Linked DNA regions of Homo sapiens: regions 1 and 2 are each linked to region 3. The links come from fine-mapping of genetic effects on gene expression. A gene starts in region 3. Each other region holds a variant in brackets. All regions are shown on one strand. Distances are from middle to middle.

What was found. PIP is the estimated chance that this variant, and not a neighbour inherited with it, causes the effect.
Region 1: its variant is the best candidate, but not a certain one, in a credible set for the expression of MLXIPL in atrial appendage (GTEx, PIP 0.78).
Region 2: its variant is the best candidate, but not a certain one, in a credible set for the expression of MLXIPL in transverse colon (GTEx, PIP 0.64).

The regions. Positions count from the first base shown.
Region 1 is chr7:73,506,048-73,510,244 of GRCh38, forward strand. BAZ1B (bromodomain adjacent to zinc finger domain 1B) reads right to left here. Exons shown (of 20, transcript NM_032408.4): 3 at 2,280-2,424. It also overlaps the pseudogene RNU6-1198P. Among named protein-coding and RNA genes, the nearest start is that of BAZ1B, 14 kb to the right of the region's middle. The variant A/G (reference allele first, on the strand shown) is at 1,856.
Region 2 is chr7:73,720,946-73,725,142 of GRCh38, forward strand. No RefSeq gene overlaps it. Among named protein-coding and RNA genes, the nearest start is that of STX1A, 3.4 kb to the left of the region's middle. The variant C/T (reference allele first, on the strand shown) is at 2,197.
Region 3 is chr7:73,622,258-73,626,454 of GRCh38, forward strand. It overlaps MLXIPL (MLX interacting protein like), which reads right to left and starts at 2,265. Exons shown (of 17, transcript NM_032951.3): 1 at 1,943-2,265. The coding sequence starts at 2,235.

The DNA.
Region 1 (4,197 bases), 120 kb before region 3:
GCCCAGTGTCAAGTACATACAGATAGATATTTAACAACTGTTTAGTTTTTTCTCCTGAATCTTACTTTCAGCTGTTACAAGATTATACAGGGATTGCTTTAGTGTTCGGTATCACTTTTGTAATAGTTATCCTTTAGCTATTTTGACTGGATAATTAAAAAACAAATAAGGCCGGGCGCACTGGCTCATGCCTGTAATCCCAGCACTCTGGGAGGCCGAGACAGGTGGATCACAAGGTCTGGAGATTGAGACCATCCTGGCTAACACAGTGAAACCCCGTCTCTATTAAAAATACAAAAAAATTAGCCGGGGGTGGTGGTGGGCACCTGTAGTCCCAGCTACTCGGGAGGCTGAGGCAGGAGAATGGCGTGAACCCAGGAGGCGAATCTTGCAGTGAGCTGAGATCATGCCACTGCACTCCAGCCTAGGCAACAGAGCGAGACTCCATCTTAAAAAAAAAAAAAAATTTAAGTAGAAAAAGTCCAACTCTCATTACAGCGAGGACTTGGATTAAACATGTCTGAGGCCGGGCGCAGTGACTCACGCCTGTAATCCCAACTCTGGGAGGCTGAAGTAGGCATATCACCCGAGGTCGAGAGTTCAAGACCAGCCTGACCAACATGGAGAGAACCCGTCTCTACCAAAAATAAAAAATTAGCAGGGCATGGTGGCAGGCGCCTGTAGTCCCAGCTACTCGGGAGGCTGAGGCAGGAGAATCACTTGAACCAGGGAGGCGGAGGTTGCAGTGAGCCGAGATCACGCCATTGCACTCCAGCCTAGGCGACAAGAGCGAGACTCCACCTCAAAGAAAAAAAAAAAAAAAGTCTTAAAGTCTTTTTTTTTTTTTTTGAGATGGAGTCTTGCTCTGTCCCCCAGGCTGGAGTGCAGTGGCACGATCTCGGCTCACTGCAACCTCCGCCTCCCAGATTCACGCCATTCTCCTGCCTCAGCCTCCCGAGTAGCTGGGACTACAGGCGCCCGCCACCACGGCCGGCTAATTTTTTATATTTTTAGTAGAGATGGGGTTTCACCGTGTTAGCCAGGATGGTCTCGATCTCCTGAACTCGTGATCCACCTGCCTCAGCCTCCCAGAGTGCTGGGATTACAGGTGTGAGCTACCACGCCCGGCCTGCAAGTCTTTTCAACATAGTAACAATTATGTGCTCACTTTGTCAGCACATATAATGAAACTGGAATAATATGGAGAAGATTAGCATGGTCATTGCATGGGTTGGGCACAGTGGTTCATGCCTGTAATCCCAGCACTTTGGAAGGCCAAGAGAATAGTTTAGGAGTTAGAGACCAGCTGGGGCAACATGGTGAAATCCCATCTCTACAAAACATACAAAAAATTAGTCAGGCATGGTGGCGCACACCTGTGGTCCCAGCTACATGGAGGGTGACATGAGAGGATCGCTTGAGCCCAGGAGGTAGAGGTTGCAATGAGCCAAGATCGCGAAACTGCACTATTCCAGCATGGATGACAGACTAAGACCCTGTCTCCGAAAAATAAAAAAAGAAAAGAAAAATCAAAACCAAAAAGACAAAATAACAGAATTATCAAAAAAGGATGAAAAAGACAAAGGACAGACCAGTACAACAAAGTGTTGCAATTATTACAATACTAAAACATTCTCAGTGATGAATGTGGTTCTAAAATTTGGTTCAAGGCCAAGAGTGATGGCACATGCCTGCAGTCCCAGCTACTCAGAAGGCTGAGGTGGGCGGACGGCTTAAGCCAGGGAGTCCAAGGCTACATACAGTGAGCTATGACTGCACCACTGCACTCTAGACTCTGTGACAGAACAAAACCCTGTCTCTAAACAAATAAATAAAAATAAAATTTAGTCCTTAT[A/G]ATAATTGATGGGAGGCCAAGGTGGGTGGATCATCTGAAGTCAGGAGTTTGAGACCAGCCTGGCCAAAATGGTGAAACCCTGTCTCTACCAAAAATACAAAAAACTAGCCGGGCGTGGTGGTGCACACCTGTAGTCCCAGCTACTCAGAAGGCTGAGGTGGGAGAATCACTTGAACACGGGAGAATGAGGTTGCAGTGAGCCAAGATTGCGCACTGCACTCCAGCCTTGGCGACAGAGTGAGACTCCATCTCAAAAAAACAAAACCAAGAAAACACACAAGTATTAACGTAAAGTATTAATACTTAACATTAAATATAATACTAAATATAACACAGTTTTACACACATAGAAATGTGTTCTGTAACCTACGATGACAGCTCTAATTCTGATGGTAAGTCAAATCAGAAACGAACAGGCACTCACCTCGAAGTCACACTCTTCTCCCACAGCATATTTGGTCATGATCTCCAACCAAGCAGTATCTACTAACTTCTCTAAGGAGGCTGTGTTATGGTGAACCATTTCCAGAACAAGCTTCTCATACCAGGCAGGAAACTCCTCCTTCAAACTAAATAAATGTAATTAGTTATCAAGAAAACACAGAAACACCTACCCAGAGATTTAATTCAAGTCAATTCAAACATTTCTTTCTTTCTTTTCCAAACATTTCAAACATTTATCGCTCTGTCACCAAGGCTGGAGTGCAGTGGCACAATCATAGCTCACTAGCCTCCACCTCCTGGGCTCGAACAATCCTCCTACCTCTCAGGTAGCTGGGACCACAGGCATGCACCACTGCACCTAACCTCTTTTAAGACTTAACTTTTGGGCAGGGCGCGGTGGCTCACGCCTGTATTCCCAGCACTTTGGGAGGCCGAGGCGGGTGGATCACGAGGTCAGGAGATCAAGACCATCCTGGCTAACACGATGAAACCCCATCTCTACTAAAAATATAAAAAATTAGCCGGCCATGGTGGCTGGTGCCTATCGTCCCAGCTACTTGGGAGGCTGAGGCAGGAGAATGGCATGAACCCAGGAAGCGGAGCTTACAGTGAGCCGAGATCGCACCACTGCACTCCAGCCTGGGCGACAGAGCGAGATTCCATCTCAAAAAAAAAAAAAAAGACTTAACTTTTGGCTGGGCGTGGTGGCTCACACCTGTAATCCTAGCACTTTGGGAGGCCAAGGCGGGCAGATCACCTGAGGTCAGGAGTTCAAGGCCAGCCTGGCCAACATGGCGAAACCCTGTCTCTACTCAAAATACAAGAATTAGCCGGGCGTGGTGGCACATGCCTGTAATCCCAGCTACTCGGGAGGCTGAGGCAGGAGAATCACTTGAACACGGGAAGCGAAGGTTGCAGTGAGCCAAGATCACACCATTGCACTCCAGCCTGGGCAACAGAGAGAGACTCAGTCTCAAAAAACAAACAAACAAAAAAAAACACTTAACATTTTACGAGTTTTAGGTTCACAGCAAAACAACACTGCTTTAGCAAATATACGTAAAGCACTGGGGAATACAAAGATTAAAAAAAAACATGCAGTTTGCTGGACACAGTGGGTCCCAGCACTTTGAAAGGCACAGGTGGGAGGATTGCTTGAGCCCAGGAGTTTGAGACCAGCCTGGCCAACAGAGTGAGAACCTGCCTCTATAAAAAACTAAAATAATTAGCTGGGTGAGGTGGCATGCACCTATAGTTCCAGCTACGTAAGAGGCTGAGGCAAGAGGCTGGCTTGATCCCAGGAGCTATGTGCATACCACTGCACTCCACCCTGGGCAACAGAGCGAAACTGTGCCTCTTAAAAAAAAGGAAACCAGGAAGCGTTAACATGTTGGAAACGTGACTTGAACACCAGAGCTGTTGCAAAAGGACAGCAATGATTTAACACTTTTCACTTATTAAACTAGCAAAAAAAAAAAAAAATTTAATTATCATACCCGGTTGGGTGCAGTGGTTCACGCCTGTAATCCCAGCACTTTGGGAGGCCGAAATGAGCAGGTCGCTTGAGGTCAGGAGTTCGAGACCAGCCTGGCTAACATGGTGAAACCCCATCTCTACTAAAAACACAAAAATTAGCCAGGCGTGGTGGTGAGCGCCTGTAGACCCAGCTACTCAGGAGGCTGAGGCACGAGAATCACTTGAACCCAGGAGATAGAGGTTACAGTGGGCCGAAATCGTGCCCCTGCATTCCAGCCTGGGCAACAGAGTGAGACTCCATCTCAAAAATAAAAATAAGAATAAGGGCCAGGCGCGGTAGCTCACGCCTGTAATCCCAGCACTTTGGGAGGCCAAGGCGGGAGGATCACGAGGTCAGGAGATTGAGACCATCCTGGCTAACA
Region 2 (4,197 bases), 99 kb after region 3:
CACCTCCCGAGTTCAAGCAATTCTCCTGCCTCAGCCTCCCAAGTAGCTTGAGATTACAGGCACCCACAACCACGCCTGGCTAATTTTTTTGTATTTTTAGTAGAGAAGGGGTTTCACCATGTTGTCCAGGCTGGTTTCGAACTCCTGACCTCAAGTGATCTGCCTGCCTCAGCCTCCCAAAGTGCTGGGATTACAGGTGTGAGCCACTGCACCCAGCCAGGAACTACTCTATCTTTGGGAAAGAGATTTGAGTTATGGCCCCCCTCTCCTCCTTTCCCTGCATCCCCAATCCTGAACTCTGGCTCTAGGCCTGAGGTTCTATTTTCTCTTTTTTCGTTTTTGTAAAGACGGGGTCTCCTCATGTTGCCCAGGCTGGTCTCAAAGTCCTAGCCTCAAGCGATCCTCCTGGCTTGGGCTTCCAAAGCACTGGGATTACACTTGGCCAATGTAGGTTCTATTTTCTATCTAGAAGCCTGGGGCCTGGCTTCCTCTAGGACTCATGGGAAAACCTGTGGAGGAGTGGGAGTGGGGAGGCCAGTCAACAGCAGATGTTCTTTTGAAGGTCCCTGCCAGCATCTTGTTGCAACAGTGGTCTCGCACACACCCCCATAAGCCCGCTGTGCCCTCCACCACCCCCAGCTGTCACTTCTGTGGCCCACACCCTCTTGACCTGAAGCCAAGCACATCCCTTCCCTTCCCCAGGACTGCCAAAGCATTGGAGCTCTGGAGCCAATCCAGCCCCCTGCTGCCCAGTGTGTCTGGGCCTGGCACCTCTCCCAGACTATGGGCACAGGTTAGCTGGCTGCCAGGCAAGCTAGGGACACTGTTCCAGCTTTCCCTTCTTCCCTGGAAAATCTGGCCCAAGACGGTCCGATGTGGCCTGGCAGAGGGAACAGCCACACCCTGTTCCAGTTGTCCCGGCTTCAACTTTGGGTGCCCTGCAGAATGGGCATTGATGGCGCCCCACTTCACAGAGGAAAAGTAAGGAGGTAAGTGCTAGAGGAACTTGCCCAGAGATGACAAGTGACAGGGGAGTCTGCCTGACTCCTGGTCTAGCCTGCAGGGTGAGTCAGTGGGGTGGGTCACAGGTATGCCCCCAGAGCCCAGTGTCTGGCCCCTTAGGGAGAGGGCAGGAAAGGGAGGCTCAGCTCCTGCCCTCTGAGAGCCCTGGTGTCACACCAAGCATCACTCATTGAGACGCATATTAAATAGTAGCATGAAAAATGAATAAAGAAATAAATGTGGCCAGGCACAGTGGCTCATGCCTGTAATCCAGCACTTTGGGAGGCCCAGGAGGGAGGATTGCTTGAGGCCAGGAGTTTAAGACCAGCCTGGACTCCATCTCTTAAAAAAAAAAAAAAAGTGTGCCTTTCACTTCTTTTTTTTGTTTGTTTGTTTTTTTAAGGCTGAGTCTCTTTCTGTCACCCAGGCTGCAGTGCAGTGGTGCAATCCAGGCTCACTACAACCTCCACCTCCCATGTTCAAGTGATTTTCCTGCCTCAGCTTCTTGAGCAGCTGGGATTACAGGCACCCGCCACCACGCCCAGCTAATTTTTGTATTTGTAGTAGAGATGGGGCGTCACCATGTTGGCCAGGCTGGTCTTGAACTCCTGACCTCAAATGATCTACCCGCCTTGGCCTCCCAAAGTGCTGGGATTACAGGTGTGAGGCACTGCACCCGGGCTTGCCCTTCTCTTTAAACTCTGTTTTTCTGCTAAGTCTTTTCCTCATTTAATCATTCATTCATTCATCAAACATTAAATGGGAAACCATGCTCTGGGGCCACTGTTCTGCACTCAAGATGTTCCCACTGCAGTGGGGGAGACAGACATGGTTTTGGTAGGTGAGGGAACCAGGGTGGCTTCCCAGAGGTGGTGACATTCGAACAGGGTGTTGCAGTGGGATTGCAGCAGGGAGTGGACAAAGGAAGGATGCTGGGGCAGGGGTGGGGGTGGGGAGCTCTCTAAAATGGAGCACTCTACCGGGAGCACCTCAGGAGCCTGCTGTGGCACTTGGGTGGACATAGGTGGGGGATGAGCCCAAGGAAGGGGGAGGCCTTGGATGCTAAACTATTGTGCAGAAAAGGGAAGCCCATCGAGGGCCAGATTATCATTCCTTTATTTATTTAGAGACCGAGTTTCACTCTTGTCATCCAGGCTGGAGTAAAATGGCACAATCTTGGCTCACTGCAACTTC[C/T]GCCTCCCGGGTTCAAGCAATTCTCCTGCCTCAGCCTCCCAGATAGCTGAGATTACAGGCATGTGCCACCACACCTGGCTAATTTTTTGTATTTTTAGTAGAGATGGAGTTTCTCCACCTTGGCCAGGCTGGTCTCGAATTCCTAACCTCAGGTGATCCACCCACCTCGGCCTCCCAAATTTCTGGGATTGCAGGCATGAGCTACCATACCCAGGCTTCATTCCTTCATTTAAAAAGTATTGGCCGGGCATGGTGGCTTATGCCTGTAATCCCAGCACTTTGGGAGGCTGAGGTGGGCGGATCACGAGGTCAGGAGATCGAGACCATCCTGGCTAACATGGTGAAACCCTGTCTCTACCAAAAATACAAAAAAAAAAAAAAAAAAAAAATTAGCCGGGCATGGTGGTGGGCGCCTGTAGTCCCAGATACTTGGGAGGCGGAGGCAGGAGAATGGCGTGAACCTGCGAGGCAGAGCTTGCAGTGAGCAGAGATCGCACCACTGCACTCCAGCCTGGGCGAAAGAGCGAGATTCCGTCTCAAAAAAAAAAAAGTATTTATTAGGCTGAGTGTGGTGGTGGCTCACACCAGTAATCCCAGCACTTTGGGAGGCCGAGGCAGGAGGATCGCTTGAGGCCAGAAGTTCAAGATCAACCTGGGCAACACACGGAGACCCTGTCTCCAAAGAAAAATATTTTTCTAAAAATTAGCTGAGCATCGTGGTGCACACCTGTACTCCCAGCTACTTAGGAGGCTGAGGTGGGAGGACTGCTTGAGCCCAGGAGTTTGAGCCTTCAGTGAGCCATGATTGTGCCACTCTACTCCAGCCTGGGCAACAGAGTGAGACCCTGTCCAAAAATATATACAAATAAAAAAGTATTTATTGAGCATCTACTATGTGCCCGCTATTCTAGATGTTGGGAATATGGCAGAAAAAAAGATGGACAAGCCCTTGCCCCCATGCAGTCTGTGGTCTAGTAAAGATGCCAAACACACAAATAAATAACATATATAATGGTGATGATATGCTACAAGGAAAGACGGGGTAGGAACTACTTACTGGGTTTGAGTGAGGAATTCCAGTTTTACTGGTACAGTTCAAGTTTTTTTTTCTTCTTCTTTTTTTTCTTTTTTCTTCTTTTTTTTTTTTTTTGAGACAGAGTTTTGCTCTTGTTGCCCAGGCTGGAGTGCAATGGCACGATCTCAGCTCACTGCAACCTCCGCCTCCAGGGTTCAAGCGATTCTCCTGCCTCAGCCTCCCTAGTAGCTGGGATTATAGGCATATGCCACCATGCCCGGCTGATTTTTTATTTTTAGTAGAGATGGGGTTTCTCCATGTTGGTCAGGCTGGTCTCGAATTCCCGACCTCAGGTGATCCGCCCGCCTCGGCCTCCCGAAGTGCTGGAATGAGCCACTGCGCCCGGCCTTTTTCTTCTTTTTTTTTTTTTAAAAGACAGGGTCTTGCTATGTTGCCCAGCCTGGAGTGCAGTGGCATGATCATGGCTCACTGCAGCCTGAAACTCCTGGGCTCAAGTGATCCTCTTGCCTCAGCCTCCCAAGTAGCTGGGACTACAGGTGCACACTAACACACCTGGCTAATTTTTGTTATTTTTTGCAGAGACAGGGTCTTGATATGTTCCCAGGCTGGTCTTGAATGCCTGGGCTCAAGTGATCCGTCTGCCTTAGCCCCCTGAGTAGTTGAGACTCCAGGCAAGCGCCGCTGCGCCCAGCTTCAATTCTAGATGATTTGGTCAGGGAGGTCCTTGATGAGAAGGTGGTATTTGAGTATATCTCTGAAGGAGGTGAGGGAGTGAGCCATGTAGGTATCTGGGGAAAAGCATTCTGGGTAGAGGGAACAGCAAGTGCAACAACCATGAGGAGGGAGCCTGCCTGGTGTGAATGACAAAACAGCAAGGAGGCGAGGAGGCCTGGAGTAGAGGAGGTAAGAGAATGCGCTCGAAGGAAGTGAGGCCAGGCCGGGCACAGTGGCTCACACCTATAATC
Region 3 (4,197 bases):
AGGCAGGTGGATCACCTGAGGTCAGGAGTTTGAGACCAGCCTGGCCAACATGGTGAAATCTCGTCTCTACTAAAAATACAAAAAATTAGCTGGAGGTGGTGGGCGCCTGTAATCCCAGCTACTCAGGAGGCTGAGGCAGGAGATTCTCTTGAACCCGGAAGGCAGAGGTTGCAGTGAGCTGAGATGGCACCACTGCACTCCAGCCTGGGCAACAAGAGCAAAACTCTGTCTCAAAAAAAAAAAAAAATTTTTTTTTTTTTGGTAGAGACAGGTTCTCAGTATGTTGCCCAGGCTGGTCTCCAACTCCTGGGCTCAAGCAATCCTTGGATGAGAACCTTGGCCTCCTAAAGTGCTGGGCTTACAGGCAGGAGCCACTGTGCCCAGCCAGAGATTTACTATTAATATTTGGGTATTTGGGAAGAAAACACAGTCCTCTCTACCCCAGCTATCTCTGACTGGGGTTACATCAGCCTTGAGTCAGCCTCTGGGTGGGGGGGCAATTTTGGGGGTGCGCTCTGTCCCTTACCTTGCCAGCTCCCCAGAACCTCTCCTCTTTGGTCACCCATCGTCAGGGTTGGAAGTGAGGCCCCCTCCCAAATAGAGTGATGTGTAGTATATAATGAGCAGCCAAAGTTGGGGTTGGGTGGGAAATGGGAGACCCTTAGGAGGAGGAGTGCCGGCATCCGGTGTACCAGGACCTTAGATGCCCTGTCCCAGGCAGTCGCGTGACATTTGGGGAGGGAGGGAGAAGGGACGGGAATTTGAACTTTCCACACGGGTCCGACGCCCTGGCCGATCGGGTTGCAACATGACCTGGGCCAGGGGCCAGAGCTTGTGGGCCAAGGTTACTCCGCCTCCAGCCAATGGGGTCGCAGCTGGGCGGCTGCGGTTGGGGGCAGGCAACACTCCCCTCACAGTCCCCACCCCAGCTCCTGCTCCCCCGCAGGGCGGCAGGTGCCGATCTGTAGCCAGCGGTTCTCAGAAGGGGAGGAGGCGCCGCGGAGGAAGAGGAATATTTGCACAGAGAAAAGATCAAGGCCGGCCGATCCCCCTTTCTCCCCTACGGGTTTTCGGTTGATAATTTATACTGGCCCCTCAACTCCGGGGAACTTTGCTCCAGGGCACTGGGCCAGGCCTCGGGTTCGCGCCCTCCTCTGGGACGCGGGGCGTGGAGCGGCAGCGGGGCGCGGCCTGTGCGCTCTCGGTGGCACTAAGCGGGGGTCCCAGGCAGCGACGGGCGCTCAGCCTAGTGTGGCGACGTGGGTAGGCGAACCCAGGCCTCCCGGGCACCGGCGTAACCTCTGCGAGCTGCGCCTCTTGGACATTTCTGGGACATCCTCCTCCCGCCACCCTTAATGTAGCAGATCAAGAAGAGGTGTCTCAGCAATTGCGGGGAGGTGGACGTGAGAGTGGGCCAGTTCCAGTCCACTTTGGTTATGAACTGGGACAATCAGGGGCGCTGGGAGTATCTCAGGGTCCAGGAATAGGGCGGGCTTGGGCCGGGGCTGCTGGGGAGAAGGCCGAGGCCTGCAGGGGGTCGGGTGGAGTGGCTCCAGAGTGGAGAGTGGGGATGGGCGCGGGTGGCCTAGGGACCAGGGGCGCCTGGCATTTTTGTAGGGACGGAGGGGCTGGGACCAGAGAGAGGGGACCAGAGGTCCAGGTAGAGGTGGGGCGCAGGCGGTCTGCGCTTCGGGGAAGAGGGAATGGGGGAGGAATGGGAATCAGAAATGCGTGGGTCCGTCAGGGGCCAGCGGGCTGGGCCGCTGTAGGAGGACCTCGGGGCTGGGAGAAAGGGGGTGTCCAGGGCGTGATCGGAGCCTCCGGGAGCCGCAGGACCGGGCTCGGGTGGGGTGTTGAGGGCCCCAGCGCGCAGTCCTGCCCCGGACCCCCCCCCCATCCCCACCTGGAAGCCAAGGCCGTCAGGGCCCGGAACCGCCCTCACCTGTAGGCCAGGCTCAAGCACTCGAAGAGGCGTGTGAGTGTGGGGTCGATACTGCGCGGCCCGAAGTCGGAGGGCCCCACGGACCCCTCCTGGTCGCGCCGCCGGGGCAGCGAGTCGCTGTGCGGCGACGACACCATGAAGTGACCGCTGTGGATGACCTGCGAGCGGAGCAAGCCGCCCGCGCTGCGCCGGAGACTCGGGTCCTCCGAGTCTGTGTCCGAGTCCGAGTCTGGGCTGGGCGCGACCCGCGGGACCTGCAAGCCCGCGGCCAGACCTGCCAGCGCGCCGGCCATGGCTGTCGCCGCCGCAACCGCCTGGTCCCTGCTCCGCGCAGCGCGGGGAACAGCTCTTGGCCAGCCGGGCCTCATTAACATAGCCCCGCCCCCACACCATAGGCCGATCGGGTGGGCGGGGCCTGGGACGGGGCGGGGCTTGTATTAGCATAATCCTTACGCCAGGTGAGAACCCGGTGCTCTGGAGCTCTGGCGGGTTGGCCCCATCTCCCTTCCCGTCTTTCCTTGGAGTCCTGATAGAGCCGCCCCTACTTTGCTCCAAAGGGATATTAAGAAAGGTCAGGCCGGACGCCAGGGGCTCTTGCCTGTAATCCTAGCACTTTAGGAGGCCAAGGCGGGAGGATGGCTTGAGGTCAGGAGTTCGAGACCAGCCTGAGCAATATGGCAAGACCCCCATCTCTACCAAAAAAATGCAAAAATTAGCCGGACATAGTGGAGAAAGCCTGTAATACCAGCTACTGGGGAGGCTGAGGTGGGAGGATTCCTTGAGCCCAGGAGTTCGACAATATGGCAAAACCCTGTCTCTACCAAACATACAAAAATTATCCAGGCATGGTGGCGTGTGCATGTAGTCCTAGCTACTCCGAAGGCTGAAGTGGGAGAATCGCTTGAGACCAAGAGGTTGAGGCTGCAGTGAGCGGAGATCGCGCCACTGCACTCCAGCCTGGATGACAGAGTGAGACCCTGTCTCCACAACAAAAGGGTCCCCTATCACACCTGAGCCTGAAAGCGCCTCAGGACCTGGGGTTTGTTCTTTCAGGGGCACCCTCCTGTGAGGCCAGAGATCACCATCTCCCCTCACCTAACTCCTGCCCTTCACCTCCAACCCCCGCCCCCCATATTAGCTCTTCTGGGTCCTCCACATAGGTAGAAGCCCCCAACTCTCAGGGGCCTGATGTGGTAAGCCCAAGGTAATGCCCCTGAAGGGCCTGGCCCACAGGAGGTTGCTAACACCTCTAGTTAACATGGTGGCCAACACGGTGGCCGGGCGCGGTGGCTCTCGCCTTCAATCCTAGCACTTTGGGAGGCCATGGTGGGTGGGTCACTTGAGGCCAGGAGTTCGAAACCAGCCTGGCTAACATGGAGAAACCCCTTCTCTACTAAAAATACAAAAATTACCGGATGTGACGATGCGTGCTTGGCTTATAATCCCAGCTACTCGGGAGGCTGAGGTGGAAGAATCACATGAGCCCAAGAGGTGGAGGTTGCAGTGAGCCGAGATCGCGCCCTACTGCACTCCACCCTGGGCAACAGTGAAATCCTGTTTCAAAAACAAAATAAAATACTTAAGAAAAAATATATATTAAAAAAATTGTGATCATTACTTCACCTGCACAGAGAGGCCCAAGGGGAGCCTCGAGGGACTGTTACTGGTAGGGATGGGTGGCTCACTGGAAGGTGGACATCCCCTAGGCAGGCATCTACCCAGGAGCTCTGAGCCCCTTCTCTCACTGACACTGAGGTCCAGCTTTTGTTCCTGCTTCTTTGTATTTTTATTTATCTATATACTTCTATTTATTTATTGTTTTGAGACGGAGGCTCACTCTGTCACCCAGGCTGGAGTGCAATGGCACGATCTCGGCTCACTGCAACCTCTGCCTCCCTGGTTCAAGCGATTCTCCTGCCTTAGCCTCCTGAGTAGCCGGGATTACAAGTGCCCGCCACCATGCCCAGCTAATTTTTGTATTTTTAGTAGAGACGAGGTTTCTCCATGCTGGCCAGGCTGGTCTCAAACTCCTGACCTTAAAGCGATTTGCCCACCTCAGCCTCTCAAAGTGCTGGGATTCCAGGCATGCGCCACCGTGCCCAGCCTATTTATATATTTTTAGAGACAGGGTCTCGCTCTGTCACCCAGGCTGGAGTGCAGAGGCACGGTCATAGCTCACTGCAGCCTCAAACTCCTGGGCCAAAGCGATCCTCCCACCTCAGCCTCCCTAGTAGCTGGGACTACAGGCTCATGCC